Linked DNA regions of Homo sapiens. The protein of the gene in region 2 interacts with the protein of the main gene of each other region in a pairwise test. Each region holds a gene or a part of one and is shown on either strand. Other genes may lie near its edges. The genes, in order: TMEM236, OPRM1, TM4SF4, NSG1, FLNA, SMAGP and CLDN8.

Region 1 (4,564 bases), on a different chromosome or scaffold from region 2:
TGGGAGGCCGAGGCAGGCAGATCACCTGAGGTCAGGAATTCAAGACCAGCATGGCCAACATGAAGAAACCCTGTCTCTATTAAAAATACAAAAAAAAAAAAAAACATTAGCCGGGAGTGGTGGCAGGACCCTGTAATCCCAGCAACTCAGGAGGCTGAGGCAGGATAATTGCTTGAACCCAGGAGGCGGAAGTTGCAGTGAGCTGAGATCGTGCCACTGCACTCCAGCCTGGACAATAAGAGTGAAACTCTGTCTCAAATAAATAAATAAATAAATAAATAAATAAAACATCAGTATGAAAGAAAAATTAGCTTATATTAACTTATTAAAGAAAAGAGAGAAGTCCAAGATGAGTAAGAATCAGATCTGAAGATCTAAAAGGAAAAATACATTAATATCAGAGACTATTTGTTCTCAATACCCTTATGTGGATCAGTATACCCATTAGCTAAACTGCTAGTTAAATTAACATTAAATCCTGATTTATTTAAAATATCTCTGTATTGTTATTGAAGTACTTTCCTCCCCTACAAGGGTAACAGAATTTACCAACACAGTAAATTATTTATTTTTAAAGTCTAAGTAGGCCAGCTTTGGCAGCTCACGCCTGTAATCTCAGCACTTTGGGAGGCCAAGACGGGTGGATTGTTTGAGCCCAGGAGTTTGGAACCAGCCTGAGCAATGTGGCAAAACCTCATCTTTATAAAAAACACAAAAAAAGTAGCCGGGTGTGGTGGTGTGCACCTGTAGTCCCAGCTACTCAGGAGGTCGAGGTAGGAGGATCACCTGAGCCCCCTGGGGAGGTTGAGGCTGCTGTGAGCAATGATCACGCCACTGCACTCCAACCTGGGCAACAGAGCCACACCCAGTCTCAAAATAAAAAATAAGTAAATAAAAAGTCTAAAGGAACCAGTTGTTTTAAAAGTCGTAGTTAATGGTCAAAGTATGACGTAAGCCTGCAAAATGCAATGTAAATAATTAAAAATAGACATTACTTTCAGTTTTACGCAAAATTAAAATTCTACATTACCATCTTCTGATTATGAGTTGTGTAAGCTCACTCCGATAAGTTTATGTAATTTAGTGTCCAGGAGAATTAAGTCCAACATTTACTACTTAGAATAGCATGAACTGGCACAAACTCCAGTCTTACTAACCCATCTCATGTGTTATTATCACTCAGTATAAATGACTGTAGAAAAATTAAGGAAGATACCATAATATCCATACATTCACAGAAGCAGTAATTGTAGCCTCCCATTAATGTCACATTCTATCCTTACGCTCTGCTCACATCCTTACCCACAGTATGTTAGAACATATCTTTCAGGAATACTTATACACTGTTAGTGGGAGTCTAAATTAGTTTAACCATTGTGGAAGACAGTGTGGTGATTCCTCAAAGACCTAAAGACAGAAATACCATTCGACTCAGCAATTTCAATACTGGGTATATACCCAAAGGAATATAAATCATTCTATTATACAGACACATGCACCCGTATGTTCGTTGCAGTACTATTCACAATGGCAAAGACAGGAAACCAACCTAAATGCCCATCAGTGATAGAATGGATAAAGAAAATGTGGCATATATACTTTATCGAATGCTATGCAATCATGAAAAAGAACAAGATCATGTCCTTTGCAGGGACATGGATGGAGCTGGAGGCCATTACTTTTAGCAAACTAACGCAGGAACAGAAAACCAAATCCCACATGTTCTCATTTATAAGTGGGAGCTAAATGATGAGAACACATGCACACACAGAGGGGAACAACACACACCGGGGCCTTCCAGAGGGTGAACGGTGGGAGGGAGAGGATCAGGAAAAACAACTAATAGGTACTAGGCTTAATACCTGGGTGATGAAATAATCTGTACGACAAATCCCCATGACACAAGTTAACCTATGTAACAAACCTGCACTTAAAAGTTAAAAGTCAAACAACAGACAAACAAACAAATATATCTTTGAAAGCATCACGGGGATTCCCTGCTAAGGAATTCTTTTACAGGCTGGGCGTGTTGGCTCACTCCTGTAATCCTAGCACTTTGGGAGGCCAAGATGGGTGGATCATTTGAGGTCAGGAGCTCGGGACCAGCCTGGCTAACATGAAAACCCCGTCTCTACTAAAAGTACAAAACTTAGCTGGGCATGGTGGTGCATGCCGGTGAAATAATCTGTACAACAAACCCCTAATGACACAAGTTAACTTATGTAACAAACCTGCGCTTTTACCCCTGAACTTTAAAGTTAAAACAAACAACAAACAAAAAAACAAACAAACAAACGTATCTTTGACAGCATCATGGGGATTCCCTACTAAAGAATTCTTCTACAGGCCGGGCATTGTGGCTTCTGCCTGTAATCCTAGTACTTTGGGAGGCTGAGGCAGGCAGATCACTTGAGGTCAGGAGTTCAAGACTAGCCTGGCCAACATGGCAAAAACCCGTCTCTACTAAAAATGCAAAAATAAGCCAGGTGTGGTGGTGTGCGACTGTAATCCCAGCTACTCAGGAGGCTGAGGCAGGAGAATCACTTGAACCCAGGAGGCGGACGTTGCAGTGAGCCAAGACTGCCCTACTGCACTCCAGCCTGGGTGACAGAGCGAGACTCCAAATCAAAAAGAAAAAAAAGAAAATTCTTTTACTTACCATCCTTTAATTTTTCTGTAAATATAACGTTTCTTGTGCAGGATAACTTTTACAGGAACCCAGATCAGTAGAGTCACTAACGCAACATAGGCAATAGAACAGGAGATGATCAGCCAGTAGTGTGTGTTGTCAGATCTAGCCCTTGTTCCTTGGTAGGCGGTGGCAAACTGTTCTGTGATCACGAGTGTGGGGATGGAGAAAGCGGCAAACTCTAGGAGCTCAAAAACCACGAACTTAATGAGCCTTCCAGAAGCCATCCTGAGGAAAAGCAAGCTGCCAAGAACCTGGGACTCCCTCTTTGACTGTGGGCAGCATATGGACCCACAGACACTGAACTGGGATCAAGTTCCTTGTCCTCGAATCGCTAACCAGTGACTTTTTATTCTTTTATTGACCCTCATATGGTTCAATGATCTCCTAACTTAACAACCGTGGTCTCTTAAAGGAACAGGACCATTGTGGAAGTGATCACTCAACATATTTGCACATCCATTATTAGAAGTCAAATGAACTTTAGAGCATGCCCGGGAGCATGGGTAAAAGCAGGGTTTTAAAAAGGTGTTTATTGCTAACGTTAGCACAAAACCATTTGTGTGATAGTCAATTCTTGTTAAGTAAAACTGCTGGAATAATATAATTTTAGAGTTAAAGGGGAATAGATAGAATCCAACCCTCTATTTTTACATAAAAGCAAATTCAGGCAAAGGGAGATACTCAAACCTAAGTCTTCATCTTGGAAAACCATCCCTCCCTTTCAAGTGCTTGAAAAGGGAGTTTGTATTCACTTTATCAACTCTCTAACCAGGATTCTCCCTAATACTTAAGATATTTATTCATTATTGTGCATTAGTTGCCATATAACACAAATTAATGTTATTTTTGTTTTGCTGCACAGGAAACTGAAATGGTGACATTAGAAGCCTGTTATCAAGATTTACACATTAACAGCTATCTGTGACTAGCTCAAATGCATATCAAATGTTTAAAGAATGACAATTGTCTCCATGAATATCCTTCCTTTGAAAAACATACTTGAGACCGGGCATGGTGGCTCACACCTGTAATCCCAGCACTTTGGGAGGCTGAAGCGGGCAGATCACCTGAGGTCAGGAGTTCGAGACCAGCCTGGCCAACATGGTGAAACCTCGTCTCTACTAAAAAATACAAAAATTAAGGCCAGGCACGGTGGCCCACACCCGTAATCCCAGCACTTTGGGAGGCTGAAGCAGGCAGATCACCTGAGGTCAGGAGTTCAAGATCAGCCTGACCAACATGGTGAAACCCCATCTGCACAAAAAACGAAAAAAATACAAAATTAGACGGGTGTGGTGGTGCATGCCTGTAATCCCAGCTACTTGGGAGGCTGAGGCACGAGAATCGCTTGAATCTGGGAGGTGCGGAGGTTGCAGTGAACCGAGATTGCACCATTACAATCTAGCCTGGGCAACAAGAGCGAAACTCCGTCTCAAAAAAAAAAAAAAAAAGCAAAAATTAGAGGGGCGTGGTGGCACATGCCTGTAATCCAGCTACTTGGGAGGCTAAGGCAGAAGAATCACTTCAACCAAGGAGGCTGAGGTTGCAGTGAGCTGAGATCATGCCACTGCACTCCAGCCTAGGCAACAGAGCAAGACACCTTCTCAAAAAAAAAAAAAAAAAAAAGAAAAGAAAAACATACTAGAGCACTTACAATGAGCATTTTAGTATGTGTTAGGGTGTGAAGATGAATGAATGACAGCAGTTCCTGTTCTGAAAGTGCTTGAGGTCCAATGGAGGAGATAAAATGAGGAACCACAACAAAAAACCAAGGCCAGAAGAGTGTAAATGAAGTGCTACAGGGACACAGGTGAACTTCACCTTGCTTCACCTTGGGGTTGTGGGAAGAGGATGGGCACATAAGCACGGTCA
Region 2 (3,735 bases):
CCTGGTTTCGGGCCTGGCGCTGAGCTGCCTGTATTTGGTTTTACTTCCTTGTTGTTTTTACTGAATATGAAACAATATAAAACAATGTGAGAGGGTCTTTCTCTCCTCTCAATGTCAACATCATATATGATTGGAGACTTCCACATAATTGAGTTTTAGTGCCCACTGTTACAGAAAATCATAATGGAAAAACTAAAATGTCAATAATAATTTCAGATGTGTATTTTAGTTCTCATAAGAACATCTACATTCATTTGAAAAATAGTTCTATATCTATTCTTGAAACATATTTCTTTAGTTCAAGGTCTGATGAGCTCCCAGACTGTTGGGGATTGCTCTACAGCTGCTCAAGCTTTTGAAGACTCCTGTGATTTTTTTAAATGGCTGGTTTGGTTGAAGTTTCTCTTATCAGTCAGGCACTTTGCATTTTAAGCGTACTTTACCACCGACACCCTCCCCCCCCAGCACACACACACACACACACACACACACACACACAACATAGTGAAATGGACCCGTGGGAATTATATGATAGTTGTAATCAAAATAAAATGCAATCAATACTAAAATACAATTTACCAAAGGCTTACCTCCTTATTTGAAACTCCAGCATCAATAATTTACTTGCACTCTTGTTATTTACATTTGTACTCTGGAAGTAAACTTAAAATGAAAATTAGAATTTGCTTTCAATTATACTATCTCTATCTAAATCTTAATTTGAAATTTAAATTATTTTGTCTCTACCCAAACCATCGATTTCATGGAAATGTTTAAATTTTCTTTTTTTTTTTTTTTTTTGATGGAGTCTCACTCTGTCGCCCAGGCTGGAGTGCAGTGGCTCAATCTTGGCTCACTGCAACCTCTGCCTCCCGGGTTCACACCATTCTCCTGCTTCAGCCTCCTGAGTAGCTGGGACTACAGGTGCCCGCCACAACACCTGGCTAATTTTTTGTATTTTTAGTAGAGATGGGGTTTCACCACGTTAGCCAGGATGGTTTCGATCTCCTGACCTCGTGATCTGCCTGCCTCGGCCTCCCAAAGTGTTGGGATTACAGGTGTGAGCCACTGCGCCTGGCCAGAAATGTTTAAAATTTCATAAATCTTGAATCCATAAAATTCAATGCTACCATTTATAATTTAATACTCCTACCATAAAAATTTCTGTGTTAGGCATAGCTATATGAATATTTGCCTATAAATCCCCATCAATTTAATAGGAATTAAGTTAGAAATACTAGTATATATATTCCCTTTATATACTAATTGTATATCCATATAAAAGCATTAGTACCATTATATGAAAGTATATATGCCATTCCATAAAAATATATCTACCAATATAAATAGAATATATAAAGGGAATATATATATACCAATATAAATGGGAATTTATATTGGCACATACATTTCCATTATTTTAATGGGAATTAAAGAAAAAATGCCTGTTTTCACTAAGTCATCCTTCCCCTGGCAATACATTTCCTGAACTTTTACATACTTAAATAGCCAGTTATGAAAATGTAAAACAATGAGTGATCTTGTTGTTTTCATTTTATTATGTTATATGAAAAAAAGAAACCTTGTAAGTGCAGATTTATTTTAAAAAATTGAAAAACTACTCTGTCAAACATAGCAAATAGGAAAGTTAAAAAAAAGTAAGTCTAAAGATTAGGTGCTCTGTCACTTGTCATTACATTTTTTTATAACATTAATGACACATTTTTTGCTATCCAAATATAATTTCCACTAGAAAAGAAAAGATGTCCTCCATGTTTTAAATTGCATTTGAAATTCAGGTAACTAATAACCCTTGGTTTTAAAAGATACATATAATGTTTCCGTAGGAAAAAAATCAAAATATTGTAAAGAATCTGAGTAAATGAGAGCCTCTCATGGTTGATTAAGTTCAGACATTTTAAACAGACTCCTGCCCACAAACTATTTTTCCTCTCCAGGAATAAGAATGGCAACTGAATTGTTCCTTCTTTATTCTATAGCTTTAAGTCAAACCTAACATAAGCAATCAACCCTTCCACCCATTGTCCTCTTTCTAGCTGCTTATATTCCTGAGTCTGAAAGAAGGGCAGAATTAATTCGTTTCCTTGACAGTGTTGGGGGTGAAATAAAAGATAGACCCCTGCTGCTCTGCACGTAGATTCAGTTTGTATGCCAGGGTGACATTTTAATTTACAGTAGTCCAGACACCTAAACAGGACATAGAAATGTCAACTGGTCATATTAAAATAAAAAAGTATAGAATAGTTTCTGTTTTACGGATTTTGTATCCAAGTAAATGAAAACACAATCACCTTTCAAAACATGGTATGAAATCCACAGTTGTAACAGTGAGCACAACATGCTTTCTGTGTGTGTTTTTAAGCTCTTTCCCCACATCTGCTTTTCAAAAATATTTGCCTGGAAACCTGTATTTCGCCTATAGAGACAAATACATATATTGTTTGTTGTGATAATGCACAAAAAGGAATGTTAAAAAAAAACACACAACATTGTTTTCCTTTTGATGGTCTGGGAGTTTTTCTATAAGTTTTTGGTTTTTTTTTTTTTTTCTCTTCATTAGTGTGTTAGTTCCATCATCATGTCTGTTTACTATTGAAAAATAAATATCTTCATTTAAAGTAGAGACAAAGCTACTATTTCACATTTCCAGGTAGGACAGGATGATCAGATGCAGCTTTCAAAAGAACTACCTGCTAAATCATAATGGTCTCATGTGCAGATCAAAATGTCAACTAGTATATCAAACAGTGAGCAATTCACTAAATTATTTTTACATTACTCCTATTTGACTGTTTCAGATAGTTGTATATAAAAAATATAAATTTTTGCATTGTATTGTTCTTGATGTACCAGCATACATAAACATATTAGGCTGTATTGTAAGTTTCCTGCATGTAATATGTAATGTGTAATTATATGTGATAAATAAAACCTAAAACTGATACAAATCTAGATTTTCCCTTGTCTTTCTCATTCTGACATTACTGACCTGTTTTAAAAGAATATTCCCCAAGTAAATGTTGCGACGTAGGTAAATAGCCTAAGAATTAGAGTAACAGACAACTTTGATACTAAATAAATACTTCAAAATAAAGAAGTGAACTTTCTCTCTTCATGAATTATTTCTATTTTTAGAACCAAAATGTCTCTAAACCTTGACAACCATAACTTCCTAAGCTAGAATTCTAACCAAACCATACAGAGAAGAAAAATATCCACTGTAAAGTCTATAGTTGAAAATATAGGCAGCTAAATCCACTGATAGTCTACTTTTTTTAAAAATGTGTTCTTGATGTTTTGAGCAGGAAAATTATTTGCAAGAAACAAAGAGTTTGATAAGGTGAAATTCAGAGCATGCTCTGGGTTGTTAGGTACAATTTTTTGAAGTGGAAACGTCTCAACATGAAAACACTTTATGGTAAGAAAAAAACGGCTGGGCGTGGTGGCTCACGCCTGTAATCCCAGCACTTTGGGAGCCTGAGGTGGGTGGATCACGAAGTCAGGAGATCGAGACCATCCTGGCTAACACGGTGAAACCCCATCTCTACTAAAAATTCAAAAAATTAGCCGGGCATGGTGGCAGGCACCTGTAGCCCCAGCTACTCGGGAGGCTGAGGCAGGAGAATGGTGTGAACCCGGGAGGCGGAGCTTGCAGTGAGCCGAAATTGTGCCACTGCACTCCAGCCTGGGCGACAGAGTGAGACTCCATCTCAA
Region 3 (3,926 bases), on a different chromosome or scaffold from region 2:
AAACAAGAAGTGTGCTTATTTTAGAATGCAATTGTTTATTTATTTATTTATTTTATTTTTTTGAGATGGACTCTCGCTCTGTCACCCAGGCTGGAGTGTAGTGGTGCCATCTTGGCTCACTGCAACCTCTGCCTCTCGGGCTCAAGCGATTCTCCTGCCTCAGCCTCTTGAGTAACTGGGATTACAGGCATGGGCCACCACACCCCGCTAATTTTTTTTTTTTTTTTTTGGAGGCGGAGTCTCGTTCTGTTGCCCAGGCTGGAGTGCAGTAGCGTGATCTCAGCTCACTGCCACCTCCGCCTCCCGGGTTCAAGCAATTCTTCTGCCTTGGCCTCCCGAGTAACTGGGAAAATAGGCATGCACCACTGTGCCTGGCTAATTTTTATATATTTTTAATAGAGATGGGGTTTCACCATATTGGCCAGGCTGGTCTGGAACTCCTGACCTCGTGATCCACCAGCCTCGGCCCCGCAAAGTGCTGGGATTACAGTCGTGAGCCACCACGCTAGGCCTAGAATACCCTTTAAACTATAACAAGGCCTAGAATACCTTGTTAACTATAATATCCAGAACTAGGAACTATGGGTTCAACCTTTTTATAATAATTAATAAATATGTGTTAAGAAAAAATTTTTAACACAATTCTGTCATCTAACAATGATTGAGTTGTTTCTGACTGATGTCTTCTCTAGGCAGTACTTGGTTGTTCAAAATAAAGTGTTTGAGGAAATACATTATTACCTGATAGATGAAATAAGGACTCAACTCTAAGGTAATTCCTTCATTTCTGAGGAATAATGTGAGAGTGAATGATTTTCCTTATATTCCAGCATATGTAGTAGATTTCCTTCTCAGAAGTTTACACAAATTCATGTTTCATAAGTACTATATTTTTAGAAGTGCAGCAGGAATGAAACTTAGTTATGTAATCCAGCAATTCTCAAACTTATTCAACCTTACATCCTTTGGAAAAGAGATTGCCTGTTCTAACACGAGAAATTTACCAAAATGTTCACTTACTTCTGACCTAGGTTAAAGTCATGAATGTTCTGGATGCTGAGAGTGGATTTAGATACCCTAAACATAAACAATAAGGGGAAAAATCTAAACAATTAGTAATATGAAACCTTAGTCATTGAAAACATGCAACAAGTCATTATCCAGTGCCTTTGATAAGCTAGGAAGAAGGAAAACTGTAAAACTATGCTAAGTGTGGAAAAATGCCCTATCTTCAAATAACTTATTGTCTGTGACTTCAAGGAACTTGTGCTCTATTTGGAGAAGACAGCCATAAAAAGCTAAGCATTAGTTGGGCATGGTGGTGCATGCCTGTAGTCCTAGCTCCTTAGGAGACTGAGGTGGGAGGATCACTTGAGCCCAGGAAGTTGAGGCTGCAGTGAACCACGATTGCACCACTGCACTCAGCCTGGGTGACAGGGCAAGACCCTGTCTAAAAACAAAAACAAAAACAAAAACAAAAAAACCTATGCATTATTGTATTAGAGGCATTGTGCTGTGATAGAAATTTGTGCAATCTAGAGTACAGGGGTTGGAAGAGATGAAGAATGAAGGGTCAGTTCTACAAGGAGAGTCAGACAAAGCACATGAATAGAGCTTGGTATTAAAACGTTGCATCAATCAGATGAGTTGGCAAAAGAGTTAAATTTTCTATTAAAAAGACTTTTTTTAAAAGTTGCATCCAAAATACATTGATATATGATATGAAAATGAATCCCAGCTAAAGTAGAACTCCATTATTACATAGATTCCAATCACCCAGGCACGATCAGGTCCTCTTCACCTTCAAACCTTACCCCATCCCAGATATGTACTATGATAATATTGTTAATAACATGAAAGGGGAAAGGGAAAATAGCCGACATTTAGCTTAAGCTGCCACGTCTAATTTTCACAACAGATATTTAAGGTGGGCTCTATCATGCCCATTTTAAGATGATAAAACTAAGGCTCTGAGGACACATTCATTATGCAAAGTCATTACACAGAGAAGACTAGCAAAGCTGAGATATGAGCCTGGGTCTGGGTCTGCTGACTTTAAACCCTGTGCTTCGTCATCAAAGCAACAGAGGTGATCGTTTTCTGCCTCTTCTTCCAAAATTTTAAATGTTTTCATTCTACTTTCTAGTTACTGTCTAGAATGGATATTGCAAAAGTTCTTAACATCCTGGGCCTACATTTTTTCATCCGTAAGAGGGAGTTAACCTAGCTGGGTTCCAGGATTGCTTCTGCCTTTTGCAGTCAATAATTCTATTTTGATTTTATAATTGAAAACAAAATATGGTAGTCTAATCTGTTTTTCATTAATCTCCATCATAGAAAAATATTTAAAAGAATGGAATTTTTTGATTGTTTAACTTAAAGAAGAGAAAATGCTCCGAGGGTGGAAGGGGTGAGAGATGTCAAGGCAATCTTCAGATATTTTAAAGACTGATGCCAAATGGAAGACAGGTTAGACTTGATCTTTTTGGCCTCGAGGAACATAATGAGGGCCAATGAGGAGGGGTTCTAAACTTTTACTCTTTCTCATAAGTAGAACCTGCCTGTCACATGAGACATCACAGTGACTGGCCTTAGCAGGATAATTTGACCAGAAAACTTAAGATTACTGCCAGGCCAGGTGCGGTGACTCACATCTGTAATCCCAGCACTTTGGGAGGCCAAGGCAGGCGAATCAACTGAGGTCAATAGTTCAAGACCAGCCTAGCCAACATGGTGAAACCCTGTCTCTACTAAAAATACAAAAAAGTAGCCAGGCATGGTGGCGCACGCCTGTAACCCCAGCTACTCAGGAGGCTGAGGCAGGAGAATCCCCTGAACCTGGGAAGTGAAGGTTGCAGTGAGCTGAGATCACACCATTGCACTCCAGACTGAGCGACAAGGGTGAAACTCCGTCTCAAAAAAAAAGATTACGCCAATCCTAAGGTTCTTTGATTCTATAATAGATTGGCTTTATATATCAGCCCTGGGGAGGAGAGTTTATCTTTAACAAGGTTAAAAGGCCATGGCTCAAAGGTAACAGAACCAACACCTCTGTCATCAATGAAAAGGTGAAAAAGAAATGGAAATGGGAGTGAAGAAGGGAAAAGAAGACACCAAAATTCATTCTAGAAGACCCCACAGGCCCCATCTACTATAAAGACTAGCTCCTACTCCATAACTTCTTGTAGTCACCATGTTCAACAGCAGGTGGATTAGGTTTGTTGAGTGTATCCTCTGGACCACCTGGAGAATGTGACTGTCTCTCTTCCTCTCTTTCAGATGTTCACCTCCACGATATTTGCTGTGGTTGGATTCTTGGGAGCTGGATACTCGTTTATCATCTCAGCCATTTCAATCAACAAGGGTCCTAAATGCCTCATGGCCAATAGTACATGGGGCTACCCCTTCCACGACGGGTAAGGCCACACCCTGCAATGCCCACCTGTCACCACAAGGGGCATGGGCAGATAAATTGCCCAAGGGGAGACTGCACACAATGCCATGTCTTCATCCTTATGCAAGCCTCAGGCTCGGTGCTCCTTTGAGGCAGAGATGGAGTTGTGGAATACAGCAAAGTTGCATAGGCTCTCACCTCTAATTGCTCCTTTGACAGACCCCAGGAGAAATAACTAAAAGAGGACGGATGCCTCCTTTGGCCTGAGGGAAGGAAGAGATTTGTTGTGTCATCACTTGCACCCAAATATTTATTAGCAGCAACACAAGGCAACTAATAATATTAATAAACAGAGTAATAGTTTTCATTACAAATCTCATAATAGAAAACAAGAATAATTAACCACTAACTGGGCCCAAGGGCTTTCATTAATACCCCAAATTGCCTATAATTAAACAATCATTTAAGTGCAAATGTACAGAAAATGACATTGAAATCATTGTAGGTTTCTCATGTTAATGTTAATAGACTC
Region 4 (3,926 bases), on a different chromosome or scaffold from region 2:
CAGTGTGCACATAGTAGGAGGTACTTAGTACATGCTGACTGTACCAAGTGAACTGAAGGGCGTGACCTTGGGCTCCACGAAGAGCCTCTGTACACCCTCTAACCACTGGTAAAATGGGGATATAACAGCATCCACCTCAAAGGGCTTCTGGATGCATTCTGTGAGCAACAGGTGTAAAAGTCCCACACAAGCTGCCTAGCGTTGGTGTGTGACAAACACACGCACAAATATGGAGGGAAGAGGTCAAGGGGACTTCATGAGCTCATGCCTCTCCTTTCTCCAGCTTCGGCCAAGGGCAGCTGGATACAGACCAGCAGCTCCCTGGCCTTCCTAGGTGCCTTCTCCGGAAAGGACACCCCCTCATTAGATGCTAGTGGAAAATGCCAAAGTCCCACAGGACATCACTCCAGAACAACTTATCAGGGGACTCTCAATTCCCAAGGCTGGCTGTGGATGGGAATCACCTGGAGCGCCTTTTAAACAAAAGGTGCCAGGCCCCTTCCATTGTGGCCGCCAGTCTCATCTGCAGCCGGACACAGGACTGGGGCTTCATCTCCTGGGTCATCTCCCACCCAGGCCAGGTATCCAGCGGGACTTGGGCTTGCAGGATAGGGAAGGCAGTTTTAGCCACCCCCTCCTCCCTGTGGGGAACCTGCTCCAGGCTCAGAGAGGATGAGCCAGGAAGGAAGCTCCAGGGCAGCTGGTGAAGCCACTGGCCTCAGTTATTTGTAAGTAGCCAGTTTCGGTGGGGACTTCCGGCCCCCAGGAAGCTGTCCTCTGCTGTCCTCTCTCCGGCTCAGGGCCAGCTCCTGGGCCTGCCCGTGCTCCCTCTCCATGACATCGGCCTCCCTCAGTAACTAGCTCTGCACCAGGCCCTTTCCTTTTACCCCTCTGCCTCCCAGATTAAATCAGTTCTCCAGTCTGCAGTCTCCCCTCCATCCCCAGCGCCCCAGTCTTCTCTTCCCTCAGCCACTGCAGCAGTCTCCTTGGTCATCTCACTGCCCCGTCTCTCCCTTCCAATCTCCAGCCTCCCCAGGTGACCCAAGAGGTCACCCTATCACTTCCCCCTCCTCCAGGGGCCTGTGCCTGGCACTCAGGATGCACCCGCTCTGGCCGTAAGCTGGTTCATCCTCTGCCGCCTCCCTGTGCCTGTGGCTAGCCCCCCACCAGCACACCCCCACCAGCACGTCCCCACTGCCCGCTGCTCCCTCTGTGCTCCTCTACCATCACAAACCCCTTCCCACTGGGTCAGGGCCAGCACTGCCCTCGTTCCCTGAAGCCCGCACCCTCCGCTTCTGCTTGTTGTAAAGCCCTGGTGTCCTCTCAGCCTCCAAAACAGACTCAAACTCTCCCAGCCCCAGCCTAGGGCGTGGACGGGGCTTGCTGAATAAAACATGAGTGAAAGGGTGGGGGCTTTCCTTGGCTGGGCACACTCCCCCAAGACCCGCAAGCTCCCTGGCTCACCTCCTGGAGACCCGCTCCTCCAATGTGGACCATCCTTCTAGAAACTACCGCCCACATGCCCATGCCCAACCCCTGGGCCCTCTTTCCTGTCTGTCTATAGCCTTCACATTCAGTGTACGACTGACTTCCTCACCGTTCATTTGAGAATGTAAGAGCCTCGTGAAGGCAGGGGGCTGTACCTGACTGGCTCTCGGCTGTGTTCCAGCGCCTAGAACAATAGCAAGAGCTGCTGGCACGGGGTGGGTGCCATGTACATGCCTGCCCAAGGGAGGAAGAGCTGAATGTCGGGAGCCTGAAGGACAGCATGATGTGCAAGGAGAAAAAGGGACTTGGGCTGGACAACGTGAATTCCAGCCTTTCCTGCTAATCGCGTAAGGACTCTCTGCGTCCTCATATCAGCAAAAAACAAAACCTAAATGAAACCCAAACCCAAGCTACCCAGTGACAGCTGCCAAGCCAGGCTTCCCTGTGCACGTGCTCAGTGCTAGAAACAGTTGGCTTCTCCTGCTTTATTTTAATCTCAGCAGTGCCAAGCCCTGGAGATGAGCATCTCACACTGACTCTGGGAAGTTCAGAGCCAGCTACTGAGTGTATGGATAACGGGAGCCCACAGCTACCGAGTGTATGGATTCCGTGAGCAACAGGTGTAAAAGCCCCACACAAGCTGCCTAGCGTTGGTGTGTGACAAACACACGCACAAATATGGAGGGAGGAGGTCAAGGGGACTTCATGAGCTCACGCCTCTCCTTTCTCCAGCTTTGGCCAAGGGCAGCTGGATACAGACCAGCAGCTCCCTGGCCTTCCTAGGTGCCTTCTCCGGAAAGGACACCCCCTCATTAGATGCTAGTGGAAAATGCCAAAGTCCCACAGGACATCACTCCAGAACAACTTATCAGGGGACTCTCAATTCCCAAGGCTGGCTGTGGATGGGAATCACCTGGAGCGCCTTTTAAACAAAAGGTGCCAGGCCCCTTCCATTGTGGCCGCCAGTCTCATCTGCAGCCGGACACAGGACTGGGGCTTCATCTCCTGGGTCATCTCCCACCCAGGCCAGGTATCCAGCGGGACTTGGGCTTGCAGGATAGGGAAGGCAGTTTTAGCCACCCCCTCCTCCCTGTGGGGAACCAGCAAGTGCGTTTTACAGCCACACGCGGCATAACAGCATTTGGGTCAACGATGGACCACATGCCATGGTGGCCCCATAAGACTGTCACGGAGCTGAAACCTCCTGTCGCCTGGTGACCTCGCAGCCACCGTGTAGACGGAACACAACACACTCCTCACTTTGCGGAGGTGCTGGTATACACACACCCCCTGCACTGTCAGCTGTATAAACGTCTTGCACATACAATTACATACAGAACATAATACTTGACAGTGACAATAAACGCGTATGTTACTTGTTTATGTTACCGTACTATACTTTTTAATCAGTATTTTAGAGTGCATGCCTAGTTATTAAAAAAAAAAAGTTAACTCTAAAAGAGCTTCAGGGAGCTCCTCCAAGAGAGATTCTGGAAGAAGGCAATGTTTTGTTTTGTTTTGTTTTGTTTTGTTTTGTTTTGTTTTGTTTTGTTTTTAGACGGAGTCTCCCTCTGTTGCCCAGGCTGGAGTGCAGTGGCATGATCTCAGCTCACTGCAACCTCCGCCTTCTGGGTTCAAGCGATTCTCCTGCCTCAGCCTCCTGAGTAGCTGGGATTACAGGCACCCGCCACCATGCCTGGCTAATTTTTGTATTTTTAGTAGAGACGGTGTTTCACCATGTTGGCCAGACTGGTCTTGAACTCCTGACCTCAGGTGATCCACCCACCTAGGCCTCCCAAAGTGCTGGGATTACAGGCGTGAGCCACTGCACCTGGCCTGGCATTGTTATCCTAAGAGATGACAGCCCTGTGCCTGTCACTGCTCCTGAAGACCTTCCAGTGGGACAGGGTGTGGAGGCAGAAGGCGGTGATACTGTGGATCCTGACCCTGTGCAGGCCTAGCTAATGTGTGTGTCTGTGTCCTTAGCTTTAACAAAAATGTGTTGGAAGTAAAAAAAGAATTAAAAAATTTTTTAATAGAAAAAGCACATGTAGAAAAATAATATACAGTTGTGCAAGATGTTTGAGCTTTAAGCTAAGTGTTATTACAAAAGAGTCAAAAACTTACATTTTAAAAGTTTATTGGCTGAGTGTGGTGGCTCACGCCTGTAATCTCAGCACTTTGGGAGGCCGAGGTGGGTGGATCACCTGAGGTCAGGAGTTCGAGACCGGCCTAGCCAACATGGTGAAACCCTGTCTCTACTAAAAATACAAAAATTAGCCGGGTGGTGGCGCACACCTATAATCCCAGCTACTCAGGAGACTGAGGCAGAAGAATCGCTTGAACCCGGGAGGCAGATGTTGCAGTGAGTCAAGAACGCACCATTGCGCTCCAGCCTGGGCAACAGAGTGAGACTCCATCACACACACACAAAAAGT
Region 5 (3,926 bases), on a different chromosome or scaffold from region 2:
ATGGCCAGAGACAGGCCCCCTGGAGAGAGCCGTGGGTGAGCATGGGAACTATGCTGGGGACACTCCAGTTGGCCTGCACTGAGGAGCTCCGATGGCCAGGGCAGCAGGGCAGGGAGCCCCATTCAGGAGTATCTCCTGAGTCCAGCCCTTACCCCGGTGAGGGCATCCCGGGCACAGAGCAGGTCAAGACCAGAGCTATTGCTCACCCTCTCCTGCATCCTTGGTGTTGACGGTGAAGGTGGCAGGCTTGTTCACTACTCCATGGGTGAGGCCAGGCCCATAGGCAGTGACATGGCCACAGTTGACGTAATCCACATAGAACTGCAAGGGGCTTCCTGAGGCAGGAAGAAGGGCCTTGTGGAATGGCAGCCTCGTGTGTCCCCCAGCCCCATCTCTCTGTGAGGTGGTGGCGGTGGAGTGGGCAGAGGCAGGGCAGGCCCACCTGGGATGTGCATGTTGTCATAGCGGATGTCCATCTCGTGCAGGCCAGCCTCGCTGGGTGCATACCGCACGGTCACGGTGCCGTCTTTGTTGTCAGTGATGGTGGGCTGCGCCACCTTGCCTGAGGGCATCCGAACCTCCCCTGTGGGGCAGTGGGGCTGAGGTCAGGGCAGCTCATTGGCACAGTCTGGCCTCCTTGGCTCCCGAGCTCCTTCCCAAGTCCCCACTCACCTGTGATCTCGCCCTTCTTGATGGTGAAGGGGATGACAAGGTCAAAGGGCCTCAGGCTGGTCACATCCAGCCCATTGACACCCACCAGGGGCCTCTCCGGGGCCTGCAGTGGAGACACAGGGCATGGGTGAGGGACAGTGGGAGGATCTGGGGTCCCTCCTCACACATGGTAAACTAGGGGCTCACAGAACACCCAGCTGGCTAGCCCCAGTGTCCCTAGCTGGCCAGGCCGTACCCAAGTCTGCTGGCCGCCCTGGGCGTAGGTGTACTGTGGGGCCAGCTGCTGAGACCGTAGAGGGGGCTGCACCGAGGGCTGGTCCCCAGCCAGAGCCTGCAGGGCAAAGCAGAGAGCTGCTGGAGAGTCTGTTGTCACAGAGGGGCCCCAGGGGAACAGGCCGGGACCTGCCAGACACCCCTGCTGACCTACCCCCCACCCCTCCTCACCGTCACTTGGAAGGGGCTGTTGGGCACGTGCTCGCCACCAAAGCGCACACAGATGACGTATTTGCCCGGCTGGGGGGCCGTGTAGAAGATGTCGAAAGTGCCGTCCTCATTCTCCACCACGTCCACATCCACCTCTGAGCCATCAGGCGTGCACACGGTGCACGTCACTTTGCCTTTGCCTGCCGCCTTAGTGTCCACAGTGATCACCGTCTCCTCCCCAATCTGAATGGTGGGGCCGATGCCAGCACCTGGTGGGGCAGGGTGGGTCCCCAAAGGGGGGCCAGCGTGTGAGCTCGGGTTCAGGTTGTTCCCGTCCGCCTGCCGCCCACACAGGCCTCTCATTGCCACCACCAAGCACAGCCAGGCCGCCAGGCCTCCTGCCCCGCCCTGCCCCTCCAAGCTGGGATGGCGAGTGGTTTCTCAGAAGGCAGGAAGGTTTCTCCTGACCACCTCAAGTGCCCATGTGGGAGAGGCCCGACAGTAGCACCCAGGTGCCTGGGAGGAAAAGGAAGGGCCCACTCCAGCCTAAGTGTTGACAGCCACTCCCTTGCCTACTCAGCCTCGTCCAGCACCATGGCCCACACTGCTGAACGCCAGCATCTGGCTGGGCACACGGCTGCCTGCGCCCTTCTGGCCTGGCCCCGGCCCCCATTGCTGTGTGTGGACGCGGTGAGGCGGAGTCCTGCTGCAGCGTGGGGGGATGTGACACTTGCCTCCCCACCCCCCAGGCCTGATGGTGAAACCGGAGTTTCCTGACAACTGAGAAGGCTCGCGGTGAAAAGCAGCCCGGTGCAGACAGGAGTGGGAGCGGGGAAGCGGGAGGCAGCGGGGTTAGCACCCGAGTAGCGCAGCGCAGCAGGCTTGGCAGAGCGGGGATAGCACCCAGGGAGACAGGGAACAGGAGGCCCAAGCTACAGCCACCACTGCTGGGTTGCGAGGGCAGAGCAGCTGAGCAGGCTCCAGGGCCCCAGAGTGCCCGAGGAAAGGGGAGAGACAGTGACGTTATGATCTGGGTCTCCGCCGTGGAGGCTTGGGGGGCTGTGGGCTGTGAGGCCTGGCAGTGAGAGTGCCCCCTGCAGCCTGGCCTCCTGCCAGGGAAGCAGCCAGGAGCACGAAACCTACTTGAAGGCCAAGCTCGAGGGGCCCTGCCACCAAGTCCCACTATCGGCCGAGGGCTCCTGCTGCACTAGGCTCCATGCTGGCCTGCCGCGGCCAGGCAGCTCTCCCAGGCTCCAGACCTGGCTGCCGGCTGCCCACGCTGCCCTGGGAGGCTTCACTCATGTGCACCCCATGCCATCTAGTTAGTGGCTTGGGCCCCAACCTCACAGGTACCCGACTGCCCCCACTTTCCCTGCCCGGCTCCCAGCCAACCGCAGGTCTCAGCCACTCCATCCTCAAAGTATGCCTCCTAATTTGGCTCTCACTGAAGCCCCGTGGCCGTCAAGCTTGCCAGAGAGCAACTTCAGCGCCCCCTTCCCCACCCCGGGCTCCCTGTCTCCATTCTGCAAACAGTAGCCAGGGAAACTGAGGTTACTGAGTCTTGCTCCCACCCTCAAAGCCCCCAAGGCCCTGCAATCAGTACTCCCCAGCCTCCCCCGCCCTGCGCACACACGCCTGTCACACACACATCGGATCCTACGGCCTGCTCTATAAAGCCATCTCGCTCCTGCCGCAAAACTCTAGCCACCCTCTCACCCTTTCCTTAGCCACCTCGCCCAAGTGCCAGGCCTGTAGCCTCTCATCAGCATCCCTGGGTGTCCCTGGCTGGGGCAGGTGACCCTCCATGCCTGTTGGGGAATGTCTGAATAACGTCACTGCTGGGGGATAGGGGAAGGGGGAAGGAGGGAGACGGGCCACAGAATGCACTTTGGGGCTCTGAGGCTGGGCCGGGCCCCGCCATGCTGGCCGCCCAAGCAGTCGACACTGGCGCTACTGCACTACCAGCCAGCCCCACCCGCTCATGCACCTCCCCCGGCCCGGGACGCAGAGGCCCCTGGAAGGTGGGGATGGGGGTCTGTGGATCTGGCCAGGGCTGGGGCTCCCATTGAGTTGGGGAGACCCCTTGTTCCCTCAGCCCACGCAGGAGCCCTTGTGCCTCCCTGGGTGCCAAGATCCCGAGACCCCAAAGTCCCCAGTGGGGTGCCTCTCAGGATGCACCTCACCCCAAAGCTCTCAGCTGCAACCCGAGTTCTCAGATGGGGAAATAAAGGCCCAGAGAGGGGAAGAGCTGGAGCGGTCATGCTCAGCTCCGGAAGCCTCCCTGGGCCCTCGCCCTCCAGCCCACGGCCTCATCTTCTGCACCCCACCCAACTCTGTCCCTGCCTAGAGCTGCAGCTGGAACTGTCCTGGGAATCGGCCCCAAGAGGAAAGGAAGCTGCCCCTCTGGGCAGGAGGGGCATTGGGAGTGGCCCCAGCAAGCAGCTTACCTAGCCCGTGACCTCCGATTGACACTGAGGTGAGAGGGCAGAGAGCAAGGAGAAAGGTCAGGTGAGTCACTCAAGGGGGCGGCCCCCACTCCCACACGCCGCCCCAAGCAGCGAGCCCTTGCACACAGGCACAACCCAAGCCCCGTGCCGAGCGCCGCAGCGGCCAACAGCGGGCGGGCTCACCTGTGACAGTGCACTTGCTGGCGTCCCCGGTGGGCACGGCACGCACGCGGTACGGGGAGAAGGGGATCTCGTCACCACCGTACTTGATGAGGATGGTGTAGCGACCTGTCACGTCTGGCACGTAGGCCACTGTATACGTGCCGTCATGGTTGTCTTGGATGTGTGTCTTCTTCGGCTTGCCTTCGGGATCCTGTGTGGCAG
Region 6 (3,926 bases), on a different chromosome or scaffold from region 2:
AGAGTTTGTCTAGAACAGTTATACATTTTTTTTTTTTAAGATGGAGTCTTGCTCCATTGCCCAGGCTGGAGTGCAGTGGCGCAATCTCGGCTCACTGCAACTTCCACCTCCTGGCTCAAGCGATTCTTCTGCCTCAGCCTCCTGAGTAGCTGGGATTACAGGTGTGTGCCACCATGCCCAGTTAATTTTTGTATTTTCAGTAGAGACAGGGTTTCACCATGTTGGCCAGGCTGGTCTCGAACTCCTGGCCTCGAGTGATCCACCTGCCTCGGCCTCCCAAAGTGCTGGGATTACAGGTGTGAGCCACTGTGCCTCGCCTATACATATGGATTCATTCATCCATTCTCATCTGTTACCCACAGGAACTATATTAACCAACATTGCAGTTCTATTATGAAGATTAAATGAGAGAACATGTAAACATCATATAGTAGCTACTACTTAAATATTATTTAAGGTGACTTTGTTAATATGCTTAGTGATTAAAAGGGCCAGGCATGGTGGCTCATGCCTGTAATCCCAGCACTTTGGGAGACCAAGGTGGGAAGATCGCTTGAGGCCAGGAGTTTGAGACCAGCCTGGGCAACACAGTAAGACTCTGTCTACAAAAAAAAAAAAAAAAAAAATGTAAAAATTAGCCAGGTGTGGTAATATGCGCCTGTAGTCCCAGATACTCATGAGGCTGAAGTGGGAAGATTGCTTGAGCCCAGGGGGTTAAGCCTGCAATGAGCCAGCACTGCATTACTGAATTGTTGGGCAACAGAGTAATGAGACCCTGTCTCAAAAAAATAAATTAATTAAAGGGAGAGTTGCTCTGGGTTTGAATCCTGCCTAAGCATATTACTAGGTGACCTTGAGGAAGTTACTAAACCTCTCTGAACCTGGTTGTTGTTGTTGTTGTGTTTTTTTTTTGTTTTTTTTTTGTTGTTGTTGTTGAGACAAGGATCTCACTATGTTGCTCAGGCTGGAGTGCAATGGTGCAATCTTGGCTCACTGCGGCCTCAACCTCCTGACCTCAAGCAATCTTCCTGCCTTGGCCTCCCAAAATGCTGGGATTATAAGCGTGTGCCACCACACCTGGCAGTACCTCAGTTTCTTGATTTGTGAAATGGGAGTGTGGTGTACAGCTTCTAAGATGGCTCACAATGATTTCTGCCTCCTGGTATTGACATCTTTGAGCATGCCTCTCCTCTGGTATATGGGTTGAACCTGGTGACTTGCTTTTAACAGATGATGGCAAAAATGATGGCATGTAACTTCTGAGATTAGGTTATACAACACTGTGACTCCCATCAAAGGGAAGCCCTGAAGTTTATCTACCTGGTCATGACTTCACACATTTCACCATGCACTTTCCTCCCCAAATCGCCCAGGGCTGCAATCCATCTTCCTACCATGGATCTAGAGTTCTATACAGTTGTTCCTAGTTTTGCTTTCTTTAAACATTTTGAGAATTTAGGATGTACAAAGCATTGAGAAGATTAATGTATATCAGAAGCTTGAAGATGAGTAATTTGTGTTCAATCATCAACAGTAACTTACTTTGTACATTAGGTTTAGTGTGGTAGCTCACGCCTGTAATCCCAACACTTTGGGAGGCGGAGGCAGGAGGATTGCTTGAGGCCAGGAGTTTGAGACTAATCTGGACAATATAGCAAGACACCATCTCTATTTGTTTTTTAAAAATAATATATGGAGGAGGCTGGGTGCAGTGGCTCACGCCTGTAATTCCAGCACCTTGGGAGGCCAAGGCAGGTGGATCGCTTGAGCCCAGGAGTTGGAGACCAGCCTGGGCAACATAGCCAGACTCCCATCTCTACAAAAAAAAAAAAAAAAAAAAAGTTAGCCAGACATGGTGGCACACACCTGTAGTCCCAGCTACTCGGTAAACTTGAGGTGAGAGGATCACTGGAGCCCAGGAGGTCCAGGCTGCAGTGAGCTGTGATTGTGCCACTGTACTCTAGTCTGGGTGACAGAGTGAGACCCTGTTTCAGAAAAAAAAAAAAAAAGAATAAAGGTGGGAGGAAACCAGATGATCACAATTAAATACAGACAGTTGTGCTACAAAGTGCTTCTTTAACATGAACTGGCTCACTGGTGATAGGTAACTTAAGGGAACGATGTCAGTGTAATGCAGAAGTCATGTTGGTTTATATGTGACTTCTTTATTTTTAGTTTATTTTCAGTTATCTATTCTTTAATTTTTTTAAATTGAGCAGCCCCTAGAACCAAAAGAGGTTCAGAGGACTCCCCACCCTCTTTAGCTTTAATGTTTAACATGATCAGAAGCAAGCTTTCTCACAACTAGAGAATATTTTAGCCATACAGGAAGACCTTAAGAAAAAAATTCTACAGAATGCCTTGCTGCGATGCAGCTATTGGTCAGTTTCCACTTATATGAAGCCATCTGGTGAAGCAGAAAGTGCAGATGAAGAAAGGTGCAAAGAAATTTACCTCAATATTTAAACGATGACAAGAAGGCAGACTCTACATCAGATTTTTTTTTTTTTTTCCAGACAGAGTCTCGCTCTGTCACCCAGGCTGGAGTGCAGTGGCGCGATGTTGGCTCACTGCAACCTCTGTCTCCCAGGTTCTAGCGATTCTCCTGCCTCAGCCTCCCGAGTAGCTGGGACTACAGGCGCATGTCACCACGCCCGGCTAATTTTTTGTATTTTTTAGTAGAGACGGGGTTTCACCATATTAGCCAGGATGGTCTTGATCTCCTGACCTCGTGATCTGCCCGCCTCGGCCTCCCAAAGTGCTGGGATTACAGGTATGAGCCACTGTGCCCGGCCTATTATTATTATTTTTGAGGCCAAGTCTCACTGTGTCACCCAGGCTGGAGTGCAGTGGCTTCATCTCGGCTCACTGCAACCTCCGCCCCCTGGGTTCAAGCAATTCTCCTGCCTCAGCCTCCCAAGTAGCTGGAATTACAGGCATGTGCCACCACACCCGGCTAATTTTTGTATTTTTTAGTAGAGACAGTTTTGCCATGTTGGCCAGGCTGGTCTCAGACTCCTGACCTCAGGTGATCCGCCCTCCTCAGCCTCCCAAAGTGTTGGGATTACAGGCGTGAGCCACATCGCCCCCCGAAGGACAATTTAAAAAGCATTATATTTGCAACAAGAACAAAGAAAAAGCTAGGCTTCTTTGGGCCTGAGGGGTCAGGTTGGAGGTAACAGAGAAAGCAGAATTCCCTCAGGCCTTTTCACCTCTGTTTCCTATCAAAGAGAATCATTTTTTTGCACTAAGGAGCAGTGGAGCCTTTGGGGACATGGGGGAAGTGAGCTCAAGAGAAGCAAAGAAACCCAGCAAGCACCAGACTAATCTAAAAGGGACCAGATATGACAGCCAAAGGCACTGCAAGAACTTGTAAATGGGATTTCTGTTGGTGACATAGGAGCTTCTGAGAAAGAGAAAGGGGTCGGGAACCTGAAGGGGCCATGGAAGGAAGGTGGAGTCCATAAAGCAATGGTGAGCTTGATGTGACTCCCCAGCAAAGTTCTAGAACACACTATTACGGCCTGTTTGGGGGGCTTTGAACTCGAAACAGCAAGCATTAGAAGTCAGAATGGGACTACTGAGAGCAAGCTGGGTCAGATAAGCTGCACAGCCTTCTTAGACTGAGATTCCAGGTTCCTAGACAGGGAAATTAAACAGTTAGTTCAACAAGAATTTACTGAGTGTGTACTCTGTGCCAGGCTCTGGGCTTCTATCAGTGAACAACACAGGCAAAAACCCTTACCTTTAAAGTTCCTGCCAGGATTAAACAGAATTACCCAGCAATCTCATTGCTGGGTGGGTATGATCCCGCAATCCCACTTCTAGGTATATACCCAAAAGAAATGAATGGACTTCAACTGATACTTGTATATCATGTTCATAGGAGCATTATGCAATAGCTAAATAAAAGGTGAAATAACCCA
Region 7 (4,367 bases), on a different chromosome or scaffold from region 2:
ACGGGGTTTCACCGTGTTAGCCAGGATGGTCTCGATCTCTTGACCTCTTGATCTGCCCGTCTCGGCCTCCCAAAGTGCTGGGATTACAGGCGTGAGCCACCGCCCCGGCCAAATGCTGCATATTTTCTGCATCAGCCTAAGGGACACCCTGAAGTTTGGCACCTCACAGGTCAACAAATGAGAATATTTCTGTAAATATTAAGTTTTAACTTTTTATAAGGTTTATAACGTCTGTTTAACAAAATTATAACAACTCATACTACTGTGCGTCTGTCCTGCCTCTTTTTTAGAAGACAGTCTACTTGATCCTCCTTTTGCCCTTTCTACCATATAGTTTTTGTTTTAATAATATCCACAAATGACTCAGATTTTTTGAACCATGAAACTCTCAAAGTTTAATCAGTGAGCAGAAACGATTTTCTCCCATATTTGGATTTAAGGTAGTCCAATGAAACAGAGAGAAAGTAAAACTGTAAAGAGAAAATCATTTTTTATGATGTTAAGAAGAAAAGAAAATGAAGTGGCAGCTTAAACTTTGGAAAGATCAGACAGAGAGCTTAAGGTGATCTCCAGAAGAAAATTGCTAGTCGAATTTTCTCAGATAAACATTTATGCTTAGTATAGCACTACTGTTAGAGCATCATTATTTTGAGAAGAAAGTTCAAATTGTCTTGCGTTTAGGGGTTTCTATGTCCTACTGCAGACATAATATTAAAAGGTAGGAAAACATATTTGGTTAATACCTAATATAATACAGTTTGGTAAATATAGTTCCCTTGTCTTGTAAATATCTTATTTTGAAATATCAGCCATTTGTATAGGCCCAAGGGTCTTGTGTCATCTTCAGAATTCTAGTTCCTTCAGCCCAGGAATTCAAAGCAGCAAGAATAACACCACAAAATAAGCTCATAAGCTTATTTTAATGCTATAGTGCTGGATACATAAGATAATCATCTGGTGATTTTTATTTTGGCAAAAAATGTTTTTATAAGTGAAGATTATCAGAAAAGTGTCAATGAGTATTTTTTCTGGCTTAAAGAACTCCAATATGTTTTCAGTGCCAAGGAGAAGGACAGCCTTGTGTATTTAATTACTTTAGCTTATTTTGTCCTCTGGCATGATCTGTTCCCTGATTTCACCACAGTAGAGCTTGCTTTGAAGTTGTAGAAAAATTAAATCAATCACTTGGATCACATGTGTCCCAAAGAATGTGGCTTCCCAGGTAAAAGCAATCTTTCAATCCCCTACTCTCGTTTCACTTTGGCATTTCAACAGCGTTGCAGAATTCTTCGGCAGATAATTTATTTTATCCCTTGGTCCCAGCAGCTCTTATTAAGAGTTTCAGAATTGCCTGTACAAGGTGCACCTTTCACATTACAAGGGATCGGCTCATTTCTTGATGCTTATGCAACCACTTATAACTATGCCTACAGGTAAACATACTGCTGTCTTCTTGGAAGACCGAGAAGTATAAAGAATGTTTATGTGCAGGTCTAGCTGTTCCAAGTACCCAAGTGTTGGTTTAGACACACCTGGATTACCATCCACCTTTTATTGGCTGAGAAAGTTGCCACACCTGATTTGTAAGTTTACCTGTTGCAGCCAATAGCAGGGCCATCTCAGCCAGCCAGCACTGGATACTATCTGGCCAGAAGTAGCAAAGCAGCTCTTATTTGAAAAACCACTGGGTTCCGAGTTCATTACTACAGGAAAAACTGTTCTCTTCTGTGGCACAGAGAACCCTGCTTCAAAGCAGAAGTAGCAGTTCCGGAGTCCAGCTGGCTAAAACTCATCCCAGAGGATAATGGCAACCCATGCCTTAGAAATCGCTGGGCTGTTTCTTGGTGGTGTTGGAATGGTGGGCACAGTGGCTGTCACTGTCATGCCTCAGTGGAGAGTGTCGGCCTTCATTGAAAACAACATCGTGGTTTTTGAAAACTTCTGGGAAGGACTGTGGATGAATTGCGTGAGGCAGGCTAACATCAGGATGCAGTGCAAAATCTATGATTCCCTGCTGGCTCTTTCTCCGGACCTACAGGCAGCCAGAGGACTGATGTGTGCTGCTTCCGTGATGTCCTTCTTGGCTTTCATGATGGCCATCCTTGGCATGAAATGCACCAGGTGCACGGGGGACAATGAGAAGGTGAAGGCTCACATTCTGCTGACGGCTGGAATCATCTTCATCATCACGGGCATGGTGGTGCTCATCCCTGTGAGCTGGGTTGCCAATGCCATCATCAGAGATTTCTATAACTCAATAGTGAATGTTGCCCAAAAACGTGAGCTTGGAGAAGCTCTCTACTTAGGATGGACCACGGCACTGGTGCTGATTGTTGGAGGAGCTCTGTTCTGCTGCGTTTTTTGTTGCAACGAAAAGAGCAGTAGCTACAGATACTCGATACCTTCCCATCGCACAACCCAAAAAAGTTATCACACCGGAAAGAAGTCACCGAGCGTCTACTCCAGAAGTCAGTATGTGTAGTTGTGTATGTTTTTTTAACTTTACTATAAAGCCATGCAAATGACAAAAATCTATATTACTTTCTCAAAATGGACCCCAAAGAAACTTTGATTTACTGTTCTTAACTGCCTAATCTTAATTACAGGAACTGTGCATCAGCTATTTATGATTCTATAAGCTATTTCAGCAGAATGAGATATTAAACCCAATGCTTTGATTGTTCTAGAAAGTATAGTAATTTGTTTTCTAAGGTGGTTCAAGCATCTACTCTTTTTATCATTTACTTCAAAATGACATTGCTAAAGACTGCATTATTTTACTACTGTAATTTCTCCACGACATAGCATTATGTACATAGATGAGTGTAACATTTATATCTCACATAGAGACATGCTTATATGGTTTTATTTAAAATGAAATGCCAGTCCATTACACTGAATAAATAGAACTCAACTATTGCTTTTCAGGGAAATCATGGATAGGGTTGAAGAAGGTTACTATTAATTGTTTAAAAACAGCTTAGGGATTAATGTCCTCCATTTATAATGAAGATTAAAATGAAGGCTTTAATCAGCATTGTAAAGGAAATTGAATGGCTTTCTGATATGCTGTTTTTTAGCCTAGGAGTTAGAAATCCTAACTTCTTTATCCTCTTCTCCCAGAGGCTTTTTTTTTCTTGTGTATTAAATTAACATTTTTAAAAAGCAGATATTTTGTCAAGGGGCTTTGCATTCAAACTGCTTTTCCAGGGCTATACTCAGAAGAAAGATAAAAGTGTGATCTAAGAAAAAGTGATGGTTTTAGGAAAGTGAAAATATTTTTGTTTTTGTATTTGAAGAAGAATGATGCATTTTGACAAGAAATCATATATGTATGGATATATTTTAATAAGTATTTGAGTACAGACTTTGAGGTTTCATCAATATAAATAAAAGAGCAGAAAAATATGTCTTGGTTTTCATTTGCTTACCAAAAAAACAACAACAAAAAAAGTTGTCCTTTGAGAACTTCACCTGCTCCTATGTGGGTACCTGAGTCAAAATTGTCATTTTTGTTCTGTGAAAAATAAATTTCCTTCTTGTACCATTTCTGTTTAGTTTTACTAAAATCTGTAAATACTGTATTTTTCTGTTTATTCCAAATTTGATGAAACTGACAATCCAATTTGAAAGTTTGTGTCGACGTCTGTCTAGCTTAAATGAATGTGTTCTATTTGCTTTATACATTTATATTAATAAATTGTACATTTTTCTAATTATTTGACATTCTTTCACAAGTCTCCTTTTGTTTCTGTTTTATTAACTTGTAGAAGAATGTTGAAAAGCCTGATAATTTTTTATTCTCCAAATTGAGAAAGAATGTCAAGATTTGCCTTGTAAAGACAAACAGTGCATTAATTTTTGAAAATATAAAGTACTCTATGTTATTTATGTTATTTAACAACAATATACCTTATAATCATTGGATCCCTATACCAATATTCAATGCAGATAATATATTTATAATTTAAGATAGTACTATAAATTCAAGCAAATCTATATGTTATAAATATTATGTATATAACAGCCAGGTTTGAAAAATTTTCTGTAGCTAAATATATATTTCTACTTCTGAGAAATAATAAATAATATTGTCTAATGTTCTGGGGGCATGTATTACATGCTAGGACCTCTACTGCTTATATGAATTGTTATTAAATCTTTTATGAGACTGATAATGTTATTAGTTCAATTCAAAGATGAGGCTATCTCAGAACAATTCATTGATTACTCAATAGAATCAGGAGATTTATAAAAAGGCTGCCTGGACTCATAGCTCAACACTCTTTCTCTCAAGGAAAGTGAATTATTTTTTCAGCAATGTCTAGTTTAAACACGAATTTTTATATGTTAAAATGACACACTTA

Evidence for each region.
Region 1: the proteins of OPRM1 (region 2) and TMEM236 interact in binary tests that used the Homo sapiens proteins (3 or more experiments, as listed by UniProt).
Region 3: the proteins of OPRM1 (region 2) and TM4SF4 interact in binary tests that used the Homo sapiens proteins (3 or more experiments, as listed by UniProt).
Region 4: the proteins of OPRM1 (region 2) and NSG1 interact in binary tests that used the Homo sapiens proteins (3 or more experiments, as listed by UniProt).
Region 5: the proteins of OPRM1 (region 2) and FLNA interact in binary tests that used the Homo sapiens proteins (3 or more experiments, as listed by UniProt).
Region 6: the proteins of OPRM1 (region 2) and SMAGP interact in binary tests that used the Homo sapiens proteins (3 or more experiments, as listed by UniProt).
Region 7: the proteins of OPRM1 (region 2) and CLDN8 interact in binary tests that used the Homo sapiens proteins (3 or more experiments, as listed by UniProt).

The regions. Positions count from the first base shown.
Region 1 is NC_000010.11:17,750,648-17,755,211, reverse strand, and holds the start of TMEM236 (transmembrane protein 236), read right to left. Parts: upstream 3,012-4,564; 5' UTR 2,917-3,011; coding exon 2,660-2,916; intron 1-2,659.
Region 2 is NC_000006.12:154,129,388-154,133,122, forward strand, and holds the end of OPRM1 (mu-type opioid receptor), read left to right. Parts: 3' UTR 1-2,969; downstream 2,970-3,735. UniProt on the Homo sapiens protein: Receptor for endogenous opioids such as beta-endorphin and endomorphin. Receptor for natural and synthetic opioids including morphine, heroin, DAMGO, fentanyl, etorphine, buprenorphin and methadone.
Region 3 is NC_000003.12:149,484,340-149,488,265, forward strand, and holds part of TM4SF4 (transmembrane 4 L6 family member 4), read left to right. Parts: intron 1-3,279; coding exon 3,280-3,416; intron 3,417-3,926. UniProt on the Homo sapiens protein: Regulates the adhesive and proliferative status of intestinal epithelial cells. Can mediate density-dependent cell proliferation.
Region 4 is NC_000004.12:4,410,861-4,414,786, reverse strand, and holds part of NSG1 (neuronal vesicle trafficking-associated protein 1), read right to left. Parts: intron 1-3,926.
Region 5 is NC_000023.11:154,353,709-154,357,634, forward strand, and holds part of FLNA (filamin-A), read right to left. Parts: intron 3,916-3,926; coding exon 3,726-3,915; intron 3,567-3,725; coding exon 3,543-3,566; intron 1,365-3,542; coding exon 1,117-1,364; intron 1,004-1,116; coding exon 908-1,003; intron 776-907; coding exon 673-775; intron 584-672; coding exon 443-583; intron 336-442; coding exon 207-335; intron 20-206; coding exon 1-19. UniProt on the Homo sapiens protein: Promotes orthogonal branching of actin filaments and links actin filaments to membrane glycoproteins. Anchors various transmembrane proteins to the actin cytoskeleton and serves as a scaffold for a wide range of cytoplasmic signaling proteins.
Region 6 is NC_000012.12:51,249,599-51,253,524, forward strand, and holds part of SMAGP (small cell adhesion glycoprotein), read right to left. Parts: intron 1-3,926. UniProt on the Homo sapiens protein: May play a role in epithelial cell-cell contacts. May play a role in tumor invasiveness and metastasis formation.
Region 7 is NC_000021.9:30,213,363-30,217,729, reverse strand, and holds CLDN8 (claudin-8), read left to right. Parts: upstream 1-1,632; 5' UTR 1,633-1,804; coding exon 1,805-2,482; 3' UTR 2,483-3,724; downstream 3,725-4,367.